Regions from separate parts of the Homo sapiens genome. Here region 1 is linked to region 2. The links come from fine-mapping of genetic effects on gene expression. Tissue or cell type: esophagus muscle. Region 2 holds a variant in brackets; the other region holds the start of a gene. All regions are shown on one strand. Distances are between the middles of the regions.

Region 1 (8,095 bases), 250 kb after region 2:
CCTCAGAGCCTAGGAGGTTCGGGACCTAGGTACCAAAAAAAGAATTTACAAATACATGGCTATGCTGTTTGTTTCAATATTTTCATCAAATTAATCAGAGTAACTGTAAAAAGCCCTCAGAAATGTAACTTTAGGTACAGGAAGAGCTCTCCAAATTTTCCCTCTGACCTGTTCTCCATATTCTAATATCCCTTTAGCAGAAACAGTGTTTCATGCCGCGTTGTCAATTAAGCATCTATATATACTGTGCCAGCTATACTGTGCAAGACTTTTGACAACTATTGTTTCTAAAGCTCAAAACAACCTTTCAAGAGAAGCATTATTATATCTAATTTACAAGGACACTGATATTATTTCAAAAGGTTAAAATACTTGCATAAGGGCATAGCTGGCCTGTAAAGGATGGGATTTCAATCCAAGTAAGTCTAACTCCAAAGTCTATAATTTTTGTCCCTTTCATAGCTCTGTTCACCATGAAAGAGTAGGGCTTAGGACACAAATGGCCCTGAGAGAGGACAGACAAGATTTATAAAATCATTTCCAGTTTCAAAATTCCCAGTCCTTTTTTTTTTTTTTTTTTTTTTTTTTTTGACAATGTCTCTCTGTGTCATCCAGACTGGAGGGCAATGGTATGATCACAGCTCACTGCAGCCTCAAGAGCTCACTGCATCCCTTCTGGGCTCAAGGAATTTTCCTGTCTTAGCCTCCTGGGTAGCTAGGACTACAAGCAGGAGCCATCACATCTGGCTAAATTTAAAAAACACTTTTTTTGTAGAGATGGGGTCTTGCTATGCTGACCAAGCTAGTCTTGAACTCCTGGCCTTAAGTGACCTTCCCACTTTGGCCTCCCAAAGTGCTGGGATTACAGGTGCAATCTACTGTGCCTGGCCCCAAATTCCCAGTCTTTAATCTATATTCCTTTGGAGGTTAAGATGTCTAGCTGGGATCATTTCCACCAAAAAGGTTTTAGTTGGGGGGAGAGGGCCGTAGATGTTAAATCCTGGTATCCGAAGAAGACTCTGAAGGAGGGGTAAAATGTAGCCTCAGGCTCCTAATAGCACCCATCTCAAAAGGGTTTCTATGCCTCCTCTGCTCTTTTCTGGGAAGTAGGAACCTAAAACCACATGTTCCACTTAACTTAGGGCACTAGTGTCCAGAAAATTTGCCCAGACCCTCCTCCAGATGAGGAGGAAAGCCAACTGTTTGCCTGCCCACAAGCAATTCTATGTGACTGCAATTCTATGTGACTACTCCCTCACCTCCCACATCATCATCATCTTTTTTCCAATTTGCCAGTTTCTTTCTTCCCTTTTGGAGTGGACAGAAATGAGGCACCCACCCATGAGTAAAGCTCTTTCTTGTAAGAACAATAACAAATGGAAGAGAAGAAAAAAGAAAGAAATGCAAAAGAAAAGCCCCAACTACCATGAATAAATTGAGACAAAGAAAATATTCCCTCAAATGCACCTTTCCCTGGACATCTGCCACTCCATTCTTGCAGAGACGAAGCTGCTGAGTCATTTTGTTATTTTTGCTATTGGCTGAGGGAGGAAACAGGAGATTTTACCTGTAATGGCATAAATATTGGCTTCTAGGATAAGGCCAAAGTCAGACAAGGTTGGGACAAAAATCATTCTTAGTGAAGGGGATTTGTTAAGCAGCCTATTAGTGCCATCTGCTGTACAATTCTAGAAAGCTAACTCGGGGAATTTGTCTGTTGTGCGTATCCCATGCGACAGACAGTGTGAAGGATTGACAGATAGATATGAAGCTGAATACTACCAAGCACCAACTTCCTAGAGATTTACAGGCTAGTGAAAGTGGAAGACATTCCAACAGACAAGTTACAGTGTGTTTTGTGCAACGTAAGATGGAAAGGCAGCAAAGAAGCATCTTTAGGTTAACAAGGTACCCCATAAGGATTCTGATGGGTCACTAGTTTACCAGGCAGAAGGGAGGCGGATGCAAGGCACTGCCAGCAAAGGGAGGAGTGTGGGCAACACCCTCAAGCACAAAATGACATCTCATTGGTAAACAGCTTAGTTTATATTCTGTAGGCAATGAAGCCTCTGACTGGTTTTAGGCAAGGGTATAATTTGGTCAGACTGACATTTTACAAAGATATTCTAGCTGCAAGCAAGCTGGGGAACGAATTAGGACAGATTGGAGGCAGAGAGATTAACCAGTTACAAGTCTATTGCAACAGACCAGTTAACAAATGATTCCAGTTAGATCAAGGCAGAGGCTGTGAGAAAGGAAAGGAAGGGATGAATCTGAGAGATATTTCAAAGTAAAATGGACAATAGTGATATTTCATTGTCTAAGGGACAGAGAGATGTTTCATAAGCCAAGGGAAAGAGAAAGGCTTTGGTTTGAGTGCCTGGGTGGAGGAGGGGGTGCAAGTGAAGCATTTGTTTGGGACAAGTTGAATTTGAAGTGCTATAGTCTATCCATAAGATAAATGAACAGATGGGTCTAAAGTTCAGTGATCATCTCATCCTATCTCTTCATTTCCCAAGGTGGGAATTTACTTTTTTAAAATTATTTTTATTAAAACAATTTTTTTCTCCTCCCTTCTCTACCAAGACCACGGTGAAAATTTTCTATTAGAGCAAGATATTGCTCCTACCATAGGTACCTCTGCAGCTCACATTCCCTCCAATTTAGGTAAGTCAAGCTGTCCAACCTGCCCCTGCATCTGTCTGGTATTCCAAGCATTTTCATCCTCCTTTAGTCAGAAACACAGAAAAGCATGGCTGTCTATGCAGTCAGAAAGGCCTAGCTATTGAAGTTAATAGAGCAAGATACTTAGAGCAAGATACTTAACTTCCTCATTTGTAAAATGAAGTTAACACCTACTTTGCATGGTTGTTGTGGAGTTTATAAATGACATATATAGAGGGTCTGACATTATCAGAGGTACTAAATATATGAGTTACTGTTACCCGTGTGTCATAAAAGATCATCAAAAAGCTTCTCTGTTTTAAAGAAATGACTTTTCATCTTGTCTGTTAAACTGCTCAACACTGTTCACCACAGTATATATATTCCTTATAAGGTCCCACAGCATAAATTCCTTTTAATATAGAAACTAGAAAAATAATTTATCTTTTGAAGAATGGATTTGTTTCCTTATTAGTAAGAATTACCTTTTTTCCCTTAACTGACTAATTTTGGGCAAAATTGGGTACTCAGTTACAAAAAGTACACCAACGCACTGACTAGTGTATTTGCCTGTTCTTATTATAAGAATAATAGCTACCTTTTTTTTTTTGAGACGGAGTCTCCCTCTGTCGCCCAGGCTGGAGTGCAGTGGTGCGATCTCTGCTCTCTGCAAACTCCGCCTCCCGGGTTCGTGCCATTCTCCTGCCTCAGCCTCCCGAGTAGCTGGGACCACAGGCGCCCGCCACCACGCCCGGCTAATTTTTTGTGTTTTTAGTAGAGACGGGGTTTCACCGTGTCAGCCAGGATGGTCTCGATCTCCTGACCTCGTGATCCGCCCGCCTCGGCCTCCCAAAGGGCTAGGATTACAGGCGTGAGCCACCGCGCCCGGCCGCTACCATTTTTTAAGAAGTTACTACTCGCCAGGCGTTGTGTCAAGTGCTTTACCTTCATTATTTCACTTAATCTTCACAACAACCCGCTGAGGCATTACTGCCATTTTTCAGAAGAGTAGAAAGGGAACTATAGCTCAGAGATGTCTGGGTAAGTGACTCAAATGTAGGTCTGCCTGACTCCTAACATCAATGATCTTAACCTTAACTCTATAATAGCGTTTTACATTTGACAATTTGATTGCATTCAGTTTTTTTTTGTTTTGTTTTGTTTTTGAGACGGAGTCTCGCTCTGTCGCCCAGGCTGGAGTGCAGTGGCGCGACCTCCGCTCACTGCAAGCTCCGCCTCCTGGGTTCATGCCATTCTCCTGCCTCAGCCTCCCGAGTAGCAGGGACTATACGTGCCCGCCACGACGCCTGGCTAACTTTTGTATTTTGTTTAGTAGAGACGGGGTTTCACCGTGTTAGCCAGGATGGTCTCGATCTCCTGACCTCGTGATCCGCCCGCCTTGGCCTCCCAAAATGCTGGGATTACAGGCGTGAGCCACCGCACCCGGCCTGCATTGTTTACGCTGTCCCTTTTTTGTTTGTTTGTTTAAGGCGGTGGGGCTCTTGTTCGACTTTCTTTACTTCTGCTATAACTGCCACGATATTATCCATTCAATAACTGAAGCAATTAGAAAACATAAAATCTCTTTTGGAAAGCAGGCGGGGTTTAATGGGTAGCAACAAGTGAAACTGAGGCCCAGGGAGGGGAAGGTTCGGCGCCTGGGCCTCTGGGCCCTAAACCTGGACCTCTCCCGCCTCTGGGATTTGGACGACCCACCCTATCCCCACTCCGACGGGGACAAGCAAGGCTCAGAGTCAGGGAACCTCCCTTCTCCCGGTGCAGACAGGAAAACTGAGGTCCTGAGAGCGGATGGGACCTGGCCTGCCCACACCTCACTGCCAACTTAGAGGAGGGCGCATCCCTCTCGGGCCCTGCAGCGACCAGAGGTTTGCCAGAGGCAGATTCCCATCGCTCCAAGGCTCATTTCCTCCACTGAGAACTAAAATCAAGTGGGCCCTTAAGGGTACTCACCCGAAGCAGAAGGAGGTAGGAGGCGGACCTTGGACGGAAACTGAAGTACACCGGCCAATCAGAAGAGCCTGGTTACGCTTGGGCCCATCAATAGAATTCGGCAGAAGGATCTTCGACCCGCCTCAAAGGTGCGCGTCTCACACTGAAACGTCGCGAGATCTTCCCTCAAGCGGAACGATTGGCTGAAGGTCGGAAATTGAGAGTTACGCCCACGGTTTCTTCAGACCTCTGATTGGTCTTCCAGAGGAGAAGTCAACGAACGTCAACCGATTCCTTGGATGCCCATTGGTGGGCGGTGCGGGACTGGCGACGCGCGGGCCACAGCGCGGGCGTTCGAACTGGCGCTTGGCGGCGTTGCCATGGAGATGCGGCCTGGCCGCCGCCGGTGGCTCCCGGGTTGACGGGACTGTTAGGTTGCGGGCTTTGGGGCTCACTCCCGACGGCATTGTCTTCTCCTCTTCTCAGACAGGGCAGACCGAGGAGTTTGGACCGAGGTGAGAAAGGGCGGGGAGAATAGAGGAGGGGTAGGTCTGGTCCGGAACCGTGGCGCCTGCCCGCGGACACGGGTGCGCGTGACGTCGGCTGAGCGCGGGAGGAAACTGGCAGTTGTGAGGGAACCGAGAGTTGGCCCCTCTTGGCTCTTCCTAAAGTTCACCTACTTTCCTATCTTTCATCCCCATATCTCTGCCTTTTCTTCAGCAATTATCTTGAACGCCACTTCTCTCACTTTGGGAGACTAAACTCTTGAGTCCCAAAGCCTTCTTGCTTTTGAACCGATAAGCCTGACCGGCACCTCTTTTAGGGCATTTCTATTCGCCCTTGGGTTGTTTACTTCCGGGAAGCCCGTTCGCTTCCCTTTTCCCATAAAATTTTGAAGCCTTTGAGGTAAGGCAAGCATCGTTCACAATGTCTTGCACATAGTAGATTTTCAGGAAATATTTGTTGAGTTGAATTTAATTTACAAGAAATAGATTGGATTCCTCTTCATGCCCTGCCTTGTTGTCTCTCTGCTTCAGAGACGATTTTTTATTTCGAGGCTAGGGGGAGGCCACCCTAATCTTCAATGCAAAAGGACCTAAAAGTCCACACACAGTCCACAGCTGGCCTTTCTACTCTTTGTGAAAGGCTAAACTTTTTTGGATTGGTTGCTGCAACTCTTCCTGCATCTGTGGCTTTTAGCCTTGGTCTCCCAATAATTTTATTAGACTCCTTTTAGTCTTTGCTTAAAATAAACCATTCTGTTGCTGTATGCCAAGATAATTTATCTCCCTTTAGCTTCTTAGTGACCGGCAGCTATTGTCACATTTTAAGTGTGCTTTGGAAAATGTTTTAAAGCATCTTCTTTGTACTTGTATTCTACAAGTAGAGAGGCTTTGTAGTCTCTCTATTGAAGTGCATATAACAGCTGCTCAGGTGAACTCCATCTATTCATCAGGTGTCTATGATAGAATTGCGTTCCTAAGACTGTTTCGTTGTTAACTCATGGATTATATATTCACAGCCTGATTGTTGGTGTGATTGCTCCTTATATCAAATTCATAGCTCACTGGTGGCCTTAATAAAAGGAGTGAAAAAGTTCAGTACAGCAGCTATGTTCTTGTTACCCTTTTATAAAAGTTTGAAACACTACCTTATAGCTGTGACATGTAGTGGAAACCCACTACATGTGGGTTTGGCTTTGGCTCTGTCTCTGTCTCTAATTCACTGTGGGTGGCTTTGCAAGTCATTTAGTCCCTTTATTATTATTATTATTTTTTTTTTATTAGAGAAAATGTCTTGCTCTGTCACCCAGGCTGTAGTGCACTAGCATGATAATAGCTCACCGCAGCCTTGAACGCCTGAATCTAGCCCCTTTAGACCTCATTTTTTCCATCTGGAAAATCAAAGAATTGAATTAGATTAAAATTCCTGTGGCTCTACTCTCAAGTCAAGTAGTTGATGTCAGGTAGACCACACACTCTCAGCCTTCCAAAGACCATACAGACTTTTTTTTTAGCTGCTGAAAGTAGTAGTTACCATTTATTGAGTGTTCACCCCGTACAAAGCACTGTATCCAGGGCTTTATATGCATATTACATTTTTCTTAGTGTAGCACATTACTGCTAAGATAGCATTTTATTTAAAATTTGTGGTTTTATATTGTTAATGAAAATCTTTAGTTATTCAGAGTGTGTCCTTGGGGCAACCTAAGGTATGAGCCTCTCAGTTTTTAGTTTAGGGAGAACCACAGTTTCTTTCTCTGGGCTGCTCTTTTGTCGTAAAGTGAGGGGCTGAACTCTTCTAGATCCCTTCCAGATCTAGTATTCTATGATGCCTGATATATTAATCCAGTTTCCCTATGCTGGCTCAGCAAACCAGTTTATAATTTGCACAGTGTAGATCCTCAACACATTTTGTTAAATAAATAATAGAGTTCTACTTCTTAAACCTTGAGTGTATGGTCATTGTATACCTCCCAAGTTACTGTCTCAAGGGTTTTGATGTTCATATCGTGTTGAATAAGAAGAGTTTTCTGTAGGTATAAACTAATAATAATAGTATAATATATTGTTGAGTGTTTATATATCAGACACTGAATGTAGCAGTTAATTTACATTATTCTAATTAACCCTCATGAAAGGAAACATTTTTTCCAAGTCAGCATTTTTTTTTGTCAGTTCAGTGCAGTAGCTTCCTAAATGATCTCCCTGTTTCCACTTTTGCCCACCTGCTGTGATCCATTTCCTCACAGAACTGGGAGAGTGAACTTTGAAGACGAATCATAGCATATACTTTCTCCACTTAAGATCCTCTAATGACTTCCTACTTCACTTAAAAGTAAAATTCAGACACTTTTATGTGGCCCAGTACACCCTACATAATCTGGCCCCTACCTTTCTCTCCTCTTCTCATACTATTCTCCTTCTCACCTACTATGCCAGCCAACCTGTCCGTGTTTGATGGCTTGATTTTGCCATGCTCATTTCCACCTTTGGGCTAATGTGCTCACGTGGAACCCTCTTCCTCCTGATTTTTACATAAGTGACTCCATGTTATTTCAGGTTTCACCTCAAATATTCCCTTCTGAATGAAGCCTTCTCTGATCATCCAATGTAAAGTAAGCCCTGCACTGGGCTTTATTCTTCGGTAGTGATTATCATCATCTAAAACTACCGCTTATTGATTATTAATTATCTCTTCCCATTAAAATAATAGTGTCATGAGGGCAGGGACCTTATCTGTTTTTTGGGGGGTTTTCTTGAGACAGGCTCTTACTCTGTCGCCCTGTTGCCCACACTGAACTGCAGTGGTGTGATCATGGCTCACTGTAGCCTCTGACTCCCAGGCCCAAGCAATCCTCCCACCTCAGCCCCCCAAGTAGCTGGGACCACAGGCATGTACCACCATGCCCAGCTAATTTTGTTTATTTGTAGAGACAAGGCCTCACTATGTTGTCCAGGCTCATCTCAAACTCCTGGGC
Region 2 (8,101 bases):
CCCATCTCTGACCCTCTAGCTGAAGGAATGGACCCCATCTCTGACCTTCCAAGGCTGGGCTCTGAGGCTGTGTAGCTGTTGTGGGCACCACAGACTGTCTGTATTGGTTATTAATGCCTGTCTGAGAACACGGGGTTCGGATCCTAAAAATACTCTGTCCAGCCAGAGCCCAGGAGTTGCTGGCGTGGGCCAGTGTGGCAGTGGCTGCATCTTGGTCAGATAGAGACAGAGAGGAAGAAACACACATCCAACGCCAGGAAAGACTGGGAGAGTGTGTGAATATGGGGAAACTGAGGCAGCATAGGTGAGAGATGCACAAGAAAGAGAGCCTTTGTTTTATATGGAGCAAAGATTTATAAAATTACTGGTGCCAGTTAGTCAAATTATGGCAACATTTAGGGTAATCTGTTATCCTAAATAACTGCAGAGAATTTCCTTCTAAGAGAGTCTGGAGATACAACTGATGTCAGACATAAAAACCAAGTAGTCAGTAGGATCCATTTCAAGACCAGCTTCAGGATGTTCCAAAATAAGAGTGTGGCAAAAAACACAAAGTGTTCCCAACTACCCTTTTCTGAGCCACTGCCCTCCTCCTTACCTCTTCAGAGCCCCTGCTCTCAGCCAGAGTCCCAATGAGGGGCTTAAGACTCCCTTTTATAGCCTCCCCCAACTTCTAAATCCCAGGTCTTTGCGTAGCCCCTCTCTCCAGAAGGGAGCTGCACAGTGGTTCCAAAAAGGCAGAGGAGCCCAGAGTCAGAGGGAAGATGCCATGTGACCTCGGCCCATGAGCTGACCCTTGTGGGCCCCTCCGTGAAATTGCGGGATGGGGGGCTGGGCCCTGGCCCAGGCCCGGAGAGAAGGCGGTTTTGGCACCCATCCAGGCCCCTGACGTCAATGACTTTCCAAATAATGGAATCAATATTGGGGGCTGGGGGCAAGCGTGAACCAGGCCCCAACGATTAGAAACAGATCAGCACAACCCCGCAGCTGATTCTGATAGAGCTGCCTTGGCGAGCTTGGGTGGGAGGCCTGGAAGGAGGTGGACTTGTGGGGGTGGGGTTGGGGGGTGCTCAGGAATTGGCAGGCGGAGCCACCTGGTGTCCAGAGCTTGAGGGTATACAAGTGGGCAGAGATTCGGGCTGTCTGGGATTGGAATGATGGGGTGAGGACCCCTGTCCTGGTGCCTTCCTCCTGTGAGCCTACAGGGTTCTGAGGCTAGGTAAAGTTTGTGGATGGAGACTTAGCCAGCTAGCGATAAAGAGTGGGCAAGGGGATTTCATCTCTCTGCATCCCAGATGTGGGCCCCTAGGCCATATTAGGGGTCACAGGTTATACCCATGCAGTGGAAAAGTTCTGAGTGAGACCTAAGTAAGACGACTTTTTGCTTGGAAGCAAAGGGCATTAATCCAAGATAGGGAGATGGGTATCCCTCCTCAAATTGGGAGTATGGCCTCCTCCACCAGCTCACATTCTCTCAGCCTCCTAGAGGACAGCAGGTGAGGATGGAGGGGACCATAGGGTTTATGGGGGGCTGGTCTGGCAGCAGCTGACAAAAAACAGGAAGAAGGGCTGGGGGAGCGGCTGTAATTATGGGGCATTTATTATTAATCAGATGAAATTGCTGGAAGCAGCTGGTGTAATGTGCGTAGCTATACAGACTCTGCATGCTCCCCCCACAATACGCACACACACATACGCACACCACACACAGCCTGAGCCTTGCTTGCTTTCACAGTCTGTTTCTTGTGAAGGTCAGATGGGTCTATATGTGTCTGTCTGCATACTGGAGTGTATCTGTCGGTGTTTTTTCATGTCAGCCTGTACCCTCCTCTACTCCTATTGTCTCCTTTTCCAGCTATCTCTCTCATTCTTTGGCCTAATGTGTCCCTCTCTGTCTCTGGCTTCCCCTCAGTCTTCCTCCCTTTGAGCCTGTCTTGGTGTGGCTGTATCTGTCACTATCAACCACCTGTCTCTAACATCTTATTTTAGTTTCTGGCTATCTCTCCCTGGGTGGTGGTGTCTCTGCATCTCTGGGCAGGATTGGAAGACATGGAATCCCTTTCTCATGGTATGTGTTTAGGCACCTAATCATACCTTTGGCAGATATATCTGGGACCTGTTTTCAAGGGAGCAGTTGGACCCTGAGGATCTCCTGGGGTCTTATAGAAGGTGAGGGGTCTTTTGAATGGCTAGAGTCCATAGAAGCAACAGTGGCTTTCAAGATATCCCTGAGTTCAAGGCCAGCTCCTTTACCAACTACCAGTTGTATGACTTTGGCCAAGCTGCTTCTGCTCTCTGAGCCTCAGTTTCAGGATCTGTAAAACAGAAACAGGATTACCTCCAAAGCTTGTGTTTTTTTTTTTTTTTTTTTTTGCCATAGGGTTTCACTTGGTCACCCAGGCTGGAGAGTGCAGTGGCTCAATCTTGGCTCAGTGCAACCTTCGCCTCCCACGCTCAAGTGACCCTCCCACCTCAGCCTCAGGAGTAGCTGGAACCACAGGCACATGCCACCACGCCTGGCTAATTTTTTGTATTTTTGGTAGAGATGGGGTTTCACTATGTTGCCCAGGCTAGTCTGGAACTCCTAAGCTCAGGTGATCCACCTGCTTCAGCCTCCCAAAGTGCTGGGATTACAGGTGTGAGCCACCATGCCTGGCCTTGAAGCTTGTTTTGATGATTCAGTACCAAAATGTAAATTAAGTACTTATCACAGTGTCTGGGTAACCAAGGACCCTGAACAAGTGATACCTGCTGTTATTATTCTTGGGAAAGACATTGTGCAGGTGGGTGAGAGACCTGCACAGGCAAATTGGTATAGCAGCAAGGTTTTGGAACTAGATACGGACTCAAATCTAGACTCTGGAACTGATCAGCTCTGTGGTATTGGGCAAGGCCTCCTTGAAGCTCAATCTCCTTGGTTATCAAATGTGAAGAACAATAAAACCTACCTCATGGAGAAATCATGAAGATTAAGTAAGATAATGCATATAAAGTGCCAAACACAGTTCCTGGCATATAATAGATGCTCAATAAATCATAGTGGTGATAAGGAAGGGGGTGTTACGATGGTGGTTATTTACACCGTGCCTGTGACCCTGTGCCTCTAGGATTGTGCATGTGAGGATGCATGTGATATGGAGGTGCCTGTGTGTCTGCAAACTGATTGTATAAGAATTGTGGATTGTCTGTGGGTGTGTATCTGTGTATTGTATCAGGCCACTGCCTTCTGGCAACCTTTGTCCCTGTGGTTCAGAACCTGAAGTCAGCAAGGGGTGCTGGGAGGGGTCTGTATTACTCTCAACTTTTCTTCTTCCAGACGTTTAGCTGCTGCCTGCCTCAGTCTCCCCTTCTCACAGTGGGGCTGTGAGTATGGAATGGCCTCTGAGTTGGACTAAGGCCTGTGGCTCCTCTGTGACCTCTGATTTGTGCCCTTTGCCCTTCTAGACTCTAGCCTTGTCACCTCATCTTGCCCCCTTGGTTTTGGAAGTCCTGAAGAGTTGGTCTGGAGGAGGAGGAGGACATTGATGTGCTTGGTGTGTGGCCAGTGGTGAAGAGGTAGGTGCTGGGGCCCACGTGGGGCAGATCAATCTCAGGGAATCAGGCAGGTGTAGTGGGGCTGTACGTCTAGGGGACATGAGTGGAGGAGGACCTGAGATTCCTTCCTCTCTTCCCCTGTCCTTTCTTTTTCCAGAGGTTTTGGGCTCAGCCTGGCTGAGGCTTTTCATGCTCTCAAATAGAAAGGGAAGAGACTTACCTGTGGTCACACAGGCAAGGGCAACACCAGGTTAGGAAACTGGGTTCTATACTAAGGGGGTGCTGAGTCCCAGATATGGGAGTATGTTTCTGTTTCAGTATCCTCAGATTTCCTCTCTGCCCCCCAGACATCTCTCTTATTTGATTGGAGGAGCAGCTAGGCTTTAAAAAGATGGGATGGCAGGTCAGAAAGTCCAGAATCTTCTGAGGCCAGCTGTGGGGCCGAGCCTGACTCTCCCTGTCTCTCATTCAGGCCAGGCAAGGCCCCTGGATTGGCAGCTTGGGGGTGGGGGCATCCAAGGCATCGAGGCACTGGAGCGGAACGGAAGGGCCTATTGTCCAAAACCCGCCAGAGGCCCACAAAGGCCGGCCGGGCTTTTCATCTCAGCTCCCAAACAGACTGGCCATTTTCCCGGCTGGGGGCTGAGGGGGGACTAACCCTTCACAACTAGGACCAGGTTGTTGTTGAGGGTGGAGTGGGGTACCCCAGGCTGACACATAAAAGGGGCTTAAGATGGAGCTGGGGCCCAGGAGAGGAGGAAGGGAGGCCTGAGAAGGCTGTAGAGAGTTAAGCTTTTCACCCCACTGTTCCCAGAGGACCCAAGGACATGGGGTGTGTATCTGATAGAAGTTCAGACTAGGATGGGGCTAGGAGATGGATTTACAGAATAAAAGATAATATTTATGGGGGGTACCTTGGGAGGAGTCTGATGGCTTATTTGGAAAGTGTGCTACTGGGCTGAGAGGGCACGTAATCCTCCGCAAACTGGGAACACCTTAG[G/A]GAGCCGGGACAGGAGCTGGAGAAGAGAAGGATAGTGGTCGGGGAAAGAATGGGCTCCCTGCAGCAAGAAGAACTGAGGCCAGACAGCAGGAAGGACTTCCTGCCAGTGAACAGTAGCTCAGATGCCCTGACCCTCTTCCTGGGGATCTCAGAGGATTGCCTCAGCGAGCAGGGGAGCTGGAGAACACCCCAGGGGCTCAGGCTGAGGCAGCTTCTGTGGGGGCCAAGGAGGAGGAGGCCAGAGAGGGAGGACTTGGCAGTTCTGTTCACCCTCCCCCAGCAGCACCTCCAGCACCACTTTAAAAACAGCTTTTTAATTTAACAAAGTGGATGAAAAACGGTTTTTGGAAATAAAGAATATCTGCTGTCTCCCAGGCTAGCACTCAGCCCTTGCAGAGAGCCTCTCTCTGGGCTTCTCCCTGCTGCCCATGGTTCCTTTCCTCCCTGTCTCTTTTTGTTTGTTTGTTTCTGCTCCTCAGCCCCCCAGCTTCCTTTGGCCTCCCATCACCCTCTCTCTCTCCATCACCCTCTCTCTGTCCATCTCAGCCTCCGTGGGAGCCTCGCCCTCAGTGTCTTATCTCAATGGTATCTCTGCATTTCCTTCTGTCTCTCCTCTCCCAGTCTCTCTCTTCTAGGGCCCATCTCTCTTTCCTGATTTGTCTCTGTCTCCCAGCCTGTCTCAATCTCTGTCTCTCCACCCCCCTCCTTCTCCCCCAACCCCAGCTCTAAATGGGTCTATTTAAAACGCCCAACGCTGCCAAGTCAGAAAAGCGTCTCCTGATAAAGCGCATTAGGCGGAGGGAGGGAGGAGGGGGAGGAGGGAGCGGCGGGCGGACGGATTGATCCAAGCCCGTAACCCCATTAATCAGGCAGCGTGGATCCCCCTCCCTCCCCCGTTCCAGCCCCTTTTGAGCTAAAAGCCCCTTAAATATTTATCACCCCTCCCCCACAGGGGCGAAGGGAGGAGGGTATGGCCCTTGGTGTGAGTATCCCCAGCTGTCTGGTGCCCCCGACCCCATGCGGATGTGCATTTGCACGTGTGCGTGTGCGTGTGCTCATGTATATGTGTACGGGTGTGCACACCTGACAAGCCCAGGGTCCAGTGACCAACCTGTCCGTCACCCTCTGGGCAGCCTGGTCCCTCCCTGGAGACCCTAGGAGTCTGGCCCTGCTCCTGTCCCTCCTAAAGGCGGATCTGGGGTCCTCATCCCAAATGCAGAAAGTAACTGGAGGACGGGTGGCATTGCACTGTCATTCCCAGAGGGCAGGATGGTGAGCCTGGGGTTCAGTTTCCAGATTCCCCCAAATTCCCAGCACTGGAAGTAACTTGGGGAATAGAGTTGGGGCCCCGTGCTCCTAAAGTAAGGCAACTTGGAAGGCTGGCTGAAGTTCCTGCTTTATCCTCACAGGGCAGAATAGGACCTGGAATAGGACCTGGGGGTAGGCTGGGAGCCTCCCGTGCCCTAAAAAATGTGGGAAAGTGAGCTGGGCCTTGAGGTGTGGCGGTCACCCCGGGAGGAGGAAGGTAGCCGGGAGCTGGGGCCGGGTCCCACATCTCTCACCACTTGCTGATAGCCCCAGGCAGCAGAGGTCAGCCCTGAGACCAGCAGTGGTCTGCCCGAGTTGGCCTGCGGCAACTTCTCCTTGGGAGGGGAAAGGAGGCCCCGGCCACCCCTGGGTGTGGAGAGGGGCCGGGACCGGAGCGGGGAGGGTCCCTTCTGCCTCCCCTCCCCCAGCATCAAGTGCCACATCTCCTCCTGACTCAGACAATTAGATTCAAAGGATGACCTCACTGCATGCCGTCCCTCACTCTCCCTCCGCTAGCTCGCTTGCTCGCTTGCTCGTTCGCTTGCAGCGCGCTCCTTCCTCCCCTCCTCCCGGCCCGCTTGCCCGGTCGCTCACTCGGGGCTCGGCCCTCGTCGCTCACCGCGCGGCCCGGCCCCTCGCCCACCCGCCCGCCGGGACCGCTGTGGGGGTTGCTTCTGCCTCCCGGGTCGTTCCGGCTGCCCGGGCCCCAGCCCCGCAGACCCGATGCCCGCAGGCGGGCAGGCGGACCCACGGAGCGCCGGAGGCACCGACGGGGCGCCTGCGTGGGGACCCAGGTCAGTGGCCACAGGGCCGGAGGACTTGTCACCCCCGCCGCCGCGACGCCCCCGCCCCGCGCTCGCCCGCCCGCCAGCCCGCCCAGCCCGCCTCGGCGCTTCCCGCTCCTTTCTCGGCCTCCGCCCCCCGCGGCTGCTCGGCGCGCTCCCCCTGCCAAGCTGTCTCTCTTCTTTTCTCTTCTCTGTCTCTCCCCCCAGCCCCCCTGCCTCTGCAGCCGGTGGGAGGGACTGGGACTTCCTGAGGTCCCAGGGATGGGGCCGGGGCCCATTGGCTGCAATCGGACCAGGCCTCTGAGAGGGGAGGGGGCTCTGGCTGTGTCCATTGGCCTGGGGGAGGGGACCACCGCCTGAGTGGAAGGGGGGCTACAGAGAGAGAGGCCCAGCGTGTGGGGGTGACATCTAGACAGAGGGGATGAGCTCCTGATATCTTTCTTTTCTCACATCCTGTGGGCCTCTTGCCTGGTTTCATTTGATCCCCAAAGCCTGGCTTCATTTGTCCACACCTCCTAGCTAACTTTAGTCCCCACTGCCTGATTTCATTTGGCTCCCACCACCTACCTTCTTTGGGGCCCTGTCACCTGGTTTCCTTACACCCTGCTGCCTGGTTTCTTTTGTCCCCACTGCCCCCTTCCCCGAAGTCCCTATCACCTGGCTTTATGGCATTACCCCTGCCTGGTTTCCTTAGGTCCTGCCTGTCTTCCGTGGAGTCACGTCAGGCTCCTTTTAGGATGGAGGCATCAGGGCCCCAGCTACACCTGGAGTGGCAAGTGGCAAGGATGTCTGCAGCATTGCCGATCTTTCCTGGGCTGGGGCCTGGCCAGCACAGCCTGGATTCCATTCTGACTGGACAGCGACTCCGCGTCTACTCCTCCAGTGATGGGGGCGGGGCTGCAGGGTCCAAGGACACCTTAGGACTCTCCTCCTCAGTGGTTAGTTAGAGGAGCACCGCTGGCTCTGCCTGCTCCCCTCCTGCTGCTGGGCATCTGCCCTACCTCTCTGTGGGCTGACAGTGATGCCAGGGCTTTGGTGGGGGCTGGGGGGCTGGAGTGGAGGTCTCATCTCCTTCCCTTCTCCTGCCCTTTCTGCAGCCAGGCCAGACATCTGGGTGCCCGCTAGACAGTTATGGGCACATAGAGGTTTTGAAGAGGCCTTGGGATCACACAGCAGATAGCTAGGCTGAGAGCTGCTGCCGATCCGCATCGTGGGGAAGAGAGGGTGATGAGGGAAGGCAGCAAGGGCCTGGGAAGTCGGCTGATTTCTGGGCCTTTCTGGCTCTTGCTGATTCCAGTGCCACCATCTGTCTCCCCCAGGTACTTCCTTCACCTCTCCTGTCTGGAATGGATCTCCCTTCATTCCCTAATGCTGTTGAAAGCAGGGTTTGGGGAAGAAGGAGCTGCCTGGGGAATAATCATTTATTTTCTCACTTTTTAGGGACCAACGAAGTATTTCCTTTCCTTTTCTTTCC

What was found. PIP is the estimated chance that this variant, and not a neighbour inherited with it, causes the effect.
Region 1: it holds the start of NUDT2, and the variant in region 2 is fine-mapped to the expression of NUDT2 in esophagus muscle (GTEx, PIP 0.96).

The regions. Positions count from the first base shown.
Region 1 is chr9:34,326,140-34,334,234 of GRCh38, reverse strand. NUDT2 (nudix hydrolase 2) reads right to left here and starts at 4,666. Exons shown (of 5, transcript NM_001161.5): 1 at 4,636-4,666. KIF24 (kinesin family member 24) reads left to right here and starts at 4,967. Exons shown (of 13, transcript NM_194313.4): 1 at 4,967-5,129. RefSeq lists enhancers at 4,721-4,910, 4,446-4,953, 5,041-5,140, 5,241-5,300.
Region 2 is chr9:34,576,549-34,584,649 of GRCh38, reverse strand. CNTFR (ciliary neurotrophic factor receptor) reads left to right here. Exons shown (of 10, transcript NM_147164.3): 2 at 3,445-3,555. CNTFR-AS1 (CNTFR antisense RNA 1) reads right to left here. Exons shown (of 2, transcript NR_024369.1): 2 at 1,578-2,315. Among named protein-coding and RNA genes, the nearest start is that of CNTFR, 9.1 kb to the left of the region's middle. RefSeq lists an enhancer at 5,115-6,089. The variant G/A (reference allele first, on the strand shown) is at 4,535.